2 separate regions of the Homo sapiens genome follow, and region 2 is linked to region 1. Evidence: fine-mapped expression QTL. A gene starts in region 1. The other region holds a variant in brackets. All regions are shown on one strand. Distances are from middle to middle. Region 1 holds the start of MCF2L2 (MCF.2 cell line derived transforming sequence-like 2). Region 2 overlaps MCF2L2 (MCF.2 cell line derived transforming sequence-like 2).

Region 1 (5,374 bases):
AAACTCCATCTCAAAAAAAAAAACAAAAAAGATGATCCTCTCTGAGTCAATTCCTTCATTTGTAAAATAGGGGTAGTAATGAGTACCCCACCCATTTCACAGGTTTTATTAGATTAAGTATGAGGAGACAGAATCTTGCAAAGCACACAAAAGCCAAGGGTCATTAGAGGTTGAAAGGAGAAACTACAACAAATTCCTATGTGTATCCTGCATGGAGCTGTCTATAGAAGGAGGGAGGGAGCAAGGTAGGCAAGAAAATACCATAGCCTGGGCGCCACAGGCAGCTAAGTGTTAGTCAAGGAATACTGCCTGCCAGATTTTCAAGAAGAGCCTGCTCCAGAGAAATAGGAGGGACCTTTAAAATCATCCAGGTCAACCCCTCGTTTAACAGATGGGAGGCTTCGCCCTGAGAGAGGCCCAGTAACCCACCAAAGATCTTTAGTGGCGTGACAGAGGGACCAGGGATATGTCTAATAACTGAAATGTCTGTATAATCACAGTGTACACAGTATTTCTACCCAAATTATCTTACTTATCTTCACAAGTAGCCTTTGAGCTGAGTGGGAAAGTACTATTAAAATTCCTATTTTTCAACCTGAGGTCGAATGACTTGTCCAGGGAAAGATTCAAATCCAGACGGTCACACCCCGAGTCCACTGCTCTTTCTCTATACCACAACTTCATGCCTGTGCTGGGTTTTAGCACAATCATTTCAACTTTCATCATATTGCAGATTCCGAATTCTGTTTCATTACAAGTTCTTTTTCCTCTTATTTCACACTGCCTTCAGCAATATTTCACATTCAACCTTACCTGGTAGGATCCTACTGATCTTTTGTCGTAAAAGTTCAGTGCCCACAATTGGCACCAGAAACTTTTTTCTAAACTTGAATTATCAAAACTGGGCCTTCCCATATAAATCATCTTTACAAAGTATGTCCTCACAAGTGTATCATTTGAGATGTGCACGATTATTACAGCAAACACGTTGGACTAATTGAGGCAACATTTAACATGCAAGTACCAAGAAAGCAGCTTTCACAAATGTGTAGAAAACCAAGGCAAATAGTTCCTGGCTTTATCAATAAAAGCTGATTTGCATTCATGGGAGGACCTCCAAGCACAGTCAGCAACAGAGAAAATGATCCCGATAATTCCAGTTGCCCACATCCAGAGGTTCTGAACCTGAATGTGTGTCTTTACTGAGGGAGGTCCAGGGAAGGCCAAGGGGAAGAAAGTGCTAAGAAAAAACTGACTGGGAACTGTCTCAATGTCCTCTTGCCCTTACTTAGTCTGTGGGGCCTGACGTTCCATCACAACCCTTATTTCAGGAGCAAGCAATGCATGTTTTGCTCCTCTTTTCAACTCAGGGAAGAAGATTAAAATTGCTCAGTCTCCTTGGCTTGCAGAGATTTCTCGCGGGGATCATCAGGGGTGTGCTTAACCCTCCAGGCAGCACAGTAAAACAGGCCTAGCGGCCGAGCTGCGCAGGGGCGCTCCCATGTAACCTGCCTCTCCCTGCACTTTCTTATAAACAAGCCTTCAGTGGCGTGGCAATCATTTCTGCTGAAAAGCACTGGCATTCGTTCCTCTTATGCCCTCTCCTTTCTCACTATCCCCAAAACCAGAACATAACTTCCCACCCACCCTACTCCCGTCAGAAGCAGCTAACGGATGGTAACAGCCCAGCAGCCCTCGGTTTGGAGCTCAACGGACTCGGCAACCACCTGGTGAAGGCACCAGCCTCGGCCCCCCGACCCCCACCAGCGGCGCGCCCCAGGGATGCCCCCCGCTGGGCACCGCAGGCAGGACCCAGAGCAGCGAGGCCCAGATGCCGGGCAACCCCCCAGGAAGCGCGCTGCCCCGGGGCAGCGGGTGAGGCCAGGAGCCAGATGAAGCCCAGAGACCATCCTCACCCGCCATTAATAAAACGCAGGAAAAATTAAAGCTTCGTTTACCGACATGAGTGATCACTGTGGCCAGTCGCCGGGTGAGCTCCTGGGGAGGCATCTCTTCTTTTAAGCAAGACAGCATTTCACTGAAAAACCATTCCGTATAAATAAAGCCAAACAAAACTGTTTCTACCGCTGCGGTGGATGATTTTTTAAAGGCATCTCCGCCCAAGGATGCTCTGCCCTCGCCCTCTTCCTGGCTCTCCAGGCAAGAAACGAGAGTCCCTCGCAGCCTAGGCCAGCTCTCCCTCGCCACGCCCCGCGGGGGCTCCCGTGACAGACCAAGTCTGGCGCTTTCCCAGCGTCGCAGCTGGACCGAGAGAGGAGCGGCCGTTCTGCAAAAGGAAGCAAGTCGCCAATCTCGCCGGAACCGCGCCCCGGCTCCTCCGGCCGGGCGAGCTCCGGGGCTTCCAGAATCGCGGTCCCGGCCGCCAGGTTTCCGGCGCCGCCTCCAGGGACTGTAGAGTGAGGGATGCTCCGCCAGGTGCAGGGGAGGCGGCAGGTGGCCGTGGCTTCTCTGCGCCGCCGGCCCCACGCCCCAGCGCCCACCTCGTCCAGCCCACGGGTGGCGCCCGGGGCTCTCGGGGAGGCACGCACGCTCCCAAGCGCCGCTCGTTTTGGGGTCGGGAACGCTGCGCACCTTTCCCTGCGGGGAGCCCGCGCTCCACCCCCGGAGTGGAGCTCCGGTCCTTACTCGGAACCGTGGGGCGGGGAGACAGTGACTGAGGCGCTCCAGTCGCACCGGGGTCCGGATCATCAGACGCGCGCCGGCCAGGTCTCCGCCCCTCCTTCTTCCGCGCCGGGTGTCTGCGGAGGAGCCGCGGAGAGAAGGGGGCTGGCCCGGAGAGCTGCCGCCATCCGGCAGGACCCGGAGCGGGAGGCTGGGTGAGGCGCCGCTGCTTGCCCCACCTCCTGACCCCGGGGGCGGCTGGCGTGTGTTTTCCCCCACTTGGGGTTGTTCCACGCAGTTCTTGACCTCCGCTGGCCACACCTGCACTGGGAGCCCGGCGCCCGGGCTGCGCTCCGACAAGGCTGAGCACGCGTGGGCGCGCTCACCCCCTATGTGGGCGTTTTCCTTCGTGCAGCTGCGCCCTTGCCTCTGCTCCGTCTGTCACCTGTCAGGCACGCCAGTGCTACCTTCTGGAGGGGCTGTGGCACATCCTCCATGCTGGTCCTCCTCCCCATCAGCCCATTATCCCGTGGTTTCCCTAGTTGGGCCCAGACACTTTCTGACTGGCAGCAAAAGACTAACCCCAGTTCAGCAGAGCGCTACGGGAAACGCCTGAGCAAATGCGAATTCGGTCAGGTTGTCCCCCAATCCTTTCTACAGCGGGAGTCCCTGAATACTCAGCAGGCGGAATGGCGGGACCACCCAGGCGGATGTTCTCAGCCATCTCTTTCCTCTTCGATATGTAAAAAGCCAAGCCGCAAACACCCTGGATCCAAATTCTAGGAGTAGCCACCCATCACAGGGGGCTGAGGGTATTTTTTTAATGCTTTCTCTTTTCTTCTTTTTTTTGGAGACTGAGTCTGGCTCTGTCGCCCAGGCTGGAGTGCAATGGCGCGATCTCAGCTCACTGCAAGCTCCGCCTCCCGGGTTCACGCCATTCTCCTGCCTCAGCCTCCCGAGTAGCTGGGACTACAGGCGCCCGCCACCACGCCCGGCTAATTTTTTGTATTTTTTAGTAGAGATGGGGTTTGTTTCACCGTGTTAGCCAAGGATGGTCTCGATCTCCTGACCTCGTGATCCGCCCACCTTGGCCTCCCAAAGTGCTGGGATTACAGGCGTGAGCCACCGCGCCCAGCCCTTTTTAATGCTTTCTCTAACAATTGTGGGCTGTGATTGAGAAGCGAGGTCAGTTCACCTGTGTCATGAGATTTGTGGAGAGGTTCTTCCCCCTGTGAAGTTTGGGCACTTTGCACTCTGCCTGCAAAACAGAGCAAGGATTTTCTTTTTCTTTTCTTTCTTTTTTTTTTTTTTCGTTTTTAGAGATGGAGTTTCACCATATTGCCCAGGCTGGTCTCAAACACATGGACTCAAGTGATCATGCCCGGCCACTGAGCAACCATTTTCACAACCACCTTTTGCAAGAGATTCAAAAAAGGGTTAAAAGGCCGGGCGTAGTGGCCCACGCCTGTAATCCCAGCACTTTGGGAGACCAAGGCGAGCGGATCACAAGGTCAGGCATTCAAGACCAGCCTGGCCAACATAGTGAAACCCCATTTTACTAAAAATACAAAAATTAGCTGGGTATGATGTCACGCACCTGTAATCCCAGCTACTCGGGAGGCTGAGGCAGGAGAATTGCTTGAACCTAGGAGGCGGAGGTTGCAGTGAGCCAAGACCGTGCCATTGCACTCCAGCCTGGGCAACAGAATGGGACTCCATCTCAAAAAAAAAAAAAAAAGAAAGGTTAAAGATCCGCAGGAGGGGAGGCAGCTTTTGAATTATGTTTCCGGCGTTCAAGGGTCACAAGAATTTTCAAGGAACCAAATGAGATGTTTCCTACTGATAGTAGTCAGAACCCTGGTGCCCAGTCACAGCCAACTGTGAGTTTTGGTCAGCAGAAACCAACGCCTAGTAAAGAAGACAATGATGTGGGGTATGTTGGACTTGGAGTGTCAGAGCCACTTTGAAGATCCAGTAACCTCAGCTTCCTGGCTTAGGCCGGGTCCTTATGGGTGAGAAACATGAAAAGGAAGAAGAGAAGGAATGGAGGAGAGGAAAAGGAGGGAGGAGAAGCTTATGATTAAGAATGAGAACAAAAAGAAAACAGAAAGGAAATAAATCACACTCAGAGTGCTGCCCACATCTTTGGTACTTTCACAGTCCTCAAAGGTTTCCATGGAGATAAATGAGCTCAAGTTATGGTGAGATGTAGCAGGCAGTGCCTATCCTCAGAAACTAATTCTGCTCTTATCTCTGACACTTACTCTCTCAGGGCCTTCACTGCTTCCCCTGGGCAGTAAGGAAGTGGGTCTGTGATCTCCAAGTTCCCTTTTCCAGCTCTGAAATCCTATAACTGGAATTAAGAAGAAATGATCGGCTGGGTGCATTATCTCACACCTGTAATCCCAGCACTTTGAGAGGCCGAGGTGGGTGGGTTATCTGAGATTAGGAGTTCGAAACCAGCCTGGCCAACATGACGAAACCCCATCTCTACTAAAAATACAAAAATTAGCCGGGCACGGTGGTGGGCGCCTGTAATCCCAGCTACTCAGGAGGCTGAGGCAGGAGAATCGCTTGAACCCAGGAGGCAGAGGTTGCAGTGAGCCAATATAGCACCACTGCACTCCAGCCTGGGTGACAGAGTGAGACTCCATCTCAAAGAAAAAAAGAAGAAGAAGAAGAAGAAATGACCACATAGTGTTCAATAGCTCATACCTCCTTGTTCTTCCAAGAAAATGGTCATTGTCTCCAT
Region 2 (5,374 bases), 130 kb before region 1:
AGTGCAATTATGGCTTAATGCAGCCTGGAGAGGTCTACCCCAGGCTCAGGTGATTCTTCCACCTTAGCCTCCTGAGTAGCTGGGACTACAGATGCATGCCACCACACCAGGCTAATTTTTCCTTCCTTCCTCCCTTCCTTCCTTCCTTCCTTCCTTCCTCTTTCTTTCTCTCTGTCTCTCTTTCTTTCTTTCCTTTTTTTGAGACAGGTTTTGGCCATGTTGCCGAGGCTGCTCTCGAACTCCTGGGCTCAAGCAATCCTCCCACCTCGGCCTCCCAAAGTGCTGGGATTACAGGTGTGAGGCACTGCACCCACCCAGCCTTATAGCTAAATATCTCTTAGGCTGGTCTAACCATAGAGAAATGTAATCAATGGCTTTTGGGGTTTACCTGCTAGTCCACTCTTCTTGCATCCGAATTGGTTACCAGAACACAGGGTGATTAATAAGACATTAGACCTGGCCCTTACATTTCCTGGGAGAAGGGCATGTCCCTTTTAACAAAAACACAACTTTCATCTTTGGATTCCCAGGTGATCCCTATTTGCATTTACTGGCGTTTGTCTTTCGTAAGGAAGCAAGAATGCAAAGCTTTGTAACTCAGCACAGCGATACTCAAGAGTTTCTGGATGCTGGGAGGACATTAGATAGGTGATGAGTTCTAATTATTCAATTTTTAAAAAAGACTCATTTTCTTTGCTCTTTTGAACTCCACTGAGACACTTGAACAGAAAGACAGGGAGCCCTTATGCTACCTGAAGAGTTATATGAAAAGAAGTTTCCAGTGCCAATACCTCTGCATTTCCATTTACCATGTGACCTGAAAAGCAATATAAAGTAACTATACAGAGAAAAAAGATCAAAATGCAACACGCCAAAGTGGTTGTCTTTCTAAGTGGGAAAATGATAGGCAACTTAAGTTTTTGTCTTATTTTTTTCCTAGATTATTTACAGTGAATATGTACCACATTTAGAATAATAAAAAATCATAAAGATATTTCAGAATTAATAATTACCATTATGTAGGGATGGGGGATAGTGGGATATGTACGTGCCCATGAGTAACCTTTTTCTTCCTACATTTTTGGATTTCCACAATAATATGAACTCATGCTTTGATATATGCTGTGAAAACTTTCTCTTTACACATCATGCCCAGATCTGCAAAAAACATTAGGCTGGGATTTTCTGTAGAGTTACTATGGCTACTTGCTTTCTCTCTCTCTCTGTCTCCCTCTCTCTCTCTCAAACACACATGCACACACACACACACACACACACACACACCAGGCTTATAATCTCTGGAGCAAAAATGGAGTTGGGAAAACAGCAGCTGATCCCACAGCGAGCTCAGCACACAGAGCAGGCTGCACACCAGCCCCTTCGGAGCTACTTGCTTCTGAAACAACTATATTTCATTGACATTAAAATCCCTTTAGCAATGGGATGAGGTAAGCGCCTGGGTGGGTGCCCCCTGCCATGCAAGAGGAACAGCTGTGGGGATGGAGCATGCTGACTCATTGCCGTCAGCCACATGCTGCCTGGGACCAGCTCACAGGGAAGACTCCAGAAACCGCTGCTCCTGCTGACTGGGAACATACCCTAGAGGTCACCTCCAAAGGGCACCCCTCTCCTTGTGGGCCCCTGGCATGCGCCCTTGCTGTCTATCCTGTGAAGCCTTGGTGTGGAATCTGGCAGGCCTGACTTTAATTCTGGCTTCCCCTGTGTGCACCATGTGTGGTCTTGGGCAGTCATTTACCCCAGGGTTTCTTGGTGACATCCCTGCACCACCTGCACCAGAATCATTTAGACACTTTACTAAAATACTAGTTCCTGGGCAGTATTCCAGACCTATCGACGCTGAGTCTTCAGGGCAGTGCATAAGGGAATCTGCCATATAACAGCTCACTAGGTGATTCTCGTGTGCTACATTTTGAGACCCAGCAGAGTATCAGTTTCTGCCTCTGCACAATGAGGCCATTAATACCTTCCTCAGAGGTTGTCTTGAGGATTATAAATAGATGACATAATTATGTTCCTGGTAGGAATGCAGTAGGTGCTCGATACATGGTAGGGGGTATAAAATGGTTGTTATTACTTAAGCTTCTCCAAAAAGAGTCAAAACCCTTTGCCTTTATATGAGGGAAGCACTCTGCAAATATAGTGCTTGGTTCTCTGTACACCTGAAAGGGAATCAAGAAGTGTTCCCACAGGGCCAAGCCAAAACACACTCTTAAAGTCCGGCTCCACACAGATAGAAATGGGCTTCAGTTAACTTTAATGGGATGTGGTGGGATGGCCAGAGCACTTTTTACCTTCGTGCCAGGTATACTTCTACACCCCAGGATCTGCACAGTTTTTAATGCCTCTCGAACATCTTTTCACATAAAGCACTCAAGCCTCTCAGCAATCACACAAGGAAGGGAGGACGAGTATGATGGAAGCTTCTTCACAGAAAATCTTGCAGACATCATGTTCTTGGCTGTGTTTTGCTCACCTTGTCCAGCTGTCTATGAAACTCTAAGGACTTTCCTAAAATGTCCCATTTTTTCTTGTTTCCATTGATGAAATCGTCACAGAGGTGCCTGAGCTCCACACACCGGGGCCTGATGGCATCTGCTGCATAATGGTGGCTTTGGATGAGCTGGTCCCCAACCAGTGCCAGCAGCTGGGCCTTTTCCAGGGGCTCCTGCAAAGTGAACACCCACAGCCAGGCGTCAGAAGTCAGAGCATCATGAGGCTGAGAGCTGCCTGGTACTGTGTGCTCCAAGCCTGGAGGGAGGCTGTGGAGATGCTAACCCAGGATGAAGGCTGGAGAACCTGAGAAAGCTCGGAATGGTTCCAGGCCCAGGAAGTTAAGCCTGGCCCAGAGTTGTCCACATGCTGAACAACAGCAGTCATTCATTCAAATACCTGTTGAGTTCTGGGCTAGACATCGAGGATATAGTGTTAACAAGCCCAAAATTTTCAGATTAATGGAGAATTCAGATATCAACTAAATTACACAAATCGTTAAATTATTACAATTGCAATAAACTCTAGGGCAGAAAAGCATGGAGTGCACATAATAAGAGATTTTGAATACCCCTATTAACTAAAGGAACAAGAAGAGGGACTGACACCTGTCCTTGAGGAGAGTGGGGGGTGAGCTGAAGTTGAAACACTGGTGAAAATTGGATTTGGACAACTCAAAGGTGGTCATGACACTTAAGAAATATGCTTGTCTAGGCTGGGCGTGGTGGCTC[C/G]CACCTGTAATGCCAGCACTTTGGGAGGCCGAGGTGGGCGGATCACCTGAGGTCAGGAGTTCAAGACGCGCCTGACCAACGTGGAAAAACCCCGTCTCTACTAAATACAAAAATTAGATGGGCGTGGTGGTAGGTGTCTGTAATCCCAACTACTCAGGAGGCTGAGGCAGGAGAATCGCTTGAACCCGGGAGGCGGAGATTGCAGTGAATTGAGATTGCGCCACTGCACTCCAGCCTGGGTGACAGAGCAAGACTCCATCTCAAAAAAAAAAAAAAAAAAAAAAAGAAATATGCTTGTCTAAACCCTTTCCCAAAGCCTGTAAGGGCCCTGTCTACACTGACCCTGTCTGCTCAATCACATTTCCTACCTCTTTCTGCATGACACTTCGCTCTAACCACACGTGCCAAGTTTTCCTGTTTGTTTAAGCATTCCTTCATTCATCCTTCTCATATTATTGAGAACCTGCTATTTGCCAAACACTGTCATAGGTGCTGGGAGTTCATTGGTAAAGAAAGCAGGCAAAAACCCCCACCTCATGAAATGAAGCTTACATTTTAATGGGAGACAGAGGCAATAAACAAGTGCATGTGTAGGTCATATGGTATCTTAGACAGTGATGAGTATGTGGAGAAAAATTAGATGGTGGGGAGGGCAGGGAGTGCTGGAGCTAGTATTTTAAATCGGATGGTGAGACAGTCTCCCTGAGAAGGAGTACTCAAGCTATGCAGAAAAGACTTCACATAGAAAGCCTGAGACTAGGCCGGGCTGTGGTGGCTCACGCCTGTAATCCTAGCACTTTGGGAGGCCGAGGCAGGCGGATTGCCTGAGTTCAGGAGTTGGAGACCAGCCTCGGCAACACAGGGAAACCCCATCTCTACTAAAACAAAAAAAATTAGCCAGGCATGGCAGCATGCGCCGATAGTCCCAGCTACTCTGGAAGCTGAGGCAGGAGAATTGCTTGAACCTGGGAAGAGGAGGTTGCAGTGAGCCAAGATCGTGCCACTGCACTCCAGCCTGGGTGAGAGCTAGGCTCTGTCTCCAAAAAAAAAAAAAAAAGAGAAAAGAAAGCCTGACACTACAGCCTTAGAAAGAAAGACCCGATTTTAAGATTGGCCCTTTGTTGGCATCTAGGAACTTAGATTTTTGGGAAGGTTTCCTCCATTCCCTGATGTGAATGGTTCATGATCCCTGAACTGTTTGTGCAAACAGTATGGTTTATGGTGATTACTTGCTTTTTCTTCTGGGAGTCTGAAATCTTGGTACTTGCCAGACAGAAGCTGCTGACATGACCAGCCACCAATAAAACCTCTGGGCATTGAGTCTCTAATGAGCTCCCCTGGTAGACAACATTTCACACATGTTGTCACAACCCACAGACGGGGGCAGGAAGTATGTCCTGTGAGACTCCCACAGGAGAGGATTCTAAGAAGCTTGTGCCTGGTTTCCTCCAGACTTCACCTCGCATGCCTTTCTCCTTTGCTAATTTTGCTTAGTACTTTCTCATCTTAATAGATCATAACTCTAATACAGCTACATGCAGAATCCTCCTAGTGAATCTTCGAAGAAATGTGTGCATGGTCTTGGGAGCGCTCTGCATACAAGCTGAGACCTGAAGTCAGGGACAAGCCGTGCAGTACTTGGCTGGGAGGTGAAGGCGTGTTTGACAAGTTTGGGTAGCAGGAAGGAGGCCAGTGTGGCTGCAGCAGAGGGAGCAAGAAGGAAATGAGTGGAAGACTAACTAGAGGAAAGAGGGGGTTCCATAGCCGGGGTGAGAGGAAAGCCCCTGGGTTTGGAGGGAGGATCTCGATCATGTTTTTGAAAGGACCACTCCCGGTACAGTGTCCAGAATAAGAGGAAATGCAGGGAGACTCATTAAGGGGCTGCTGCAGGAATCCAGCCGAGAGATACGGCTTACGGCTGGTCACCAAACTAGCTCCTGACTCGACCCTTCTCTGGATTGTTCTTCCCTGGGTCATGCAGAGCTGAGTTCCTGGGTCACCTCCTCACAGCGCTTCCCTGGCGACTATATCTTAAGTCATTCTCTACAACCTATTCGCCCAGTCACCTAGGCCCTCTCCCACACTTTAATTCTTTAACAGCATTATCTCTATCTAAAAACTATTTTCTTTAT

Evidence for each region. PIP is the estimated chance that this variant, and not a neighbour inherited with it, causes the effect.
Region 2: its variant is the best candidate, but not a certain one, in a credible set for the expression of MCF2L2 in skeletal muscle (GTEx, PIP 0.79).

What each region holds. Positions count from the first base shown.
Region 1 is chr3:183,425,944-183,431,317 of GRCh38, forward strand. MCF2L2 (MCF.2 cell line derived transforming sequence-like 2) reads right to left here and starts at 2,676. Exons shown (of 30, transcript NM_015078.4): 1 at 1,959-2,676. The coding sequence starts at 2,034. RefSeq lists a silencer at 2,426-2,505.
Region 2 is chr3:183,297,511-183,302,884 of GRCh38, forward strand. It overlaps MCF2L2 (MCF.2 cell line derived transforming sequence-like 2), which reads right to left. Exons shown (of 30, transcript NM_015078.4): 11 at 2,495-2,686. Among named protein-coding and RNA genes, the nearest start is that of B3GNT5, 47 kb to the left of the region's middle. RefSeq lists an enhancer at 1,371-1,665. The variant C/G (reference allele first, on the strand shown) is at 3,243.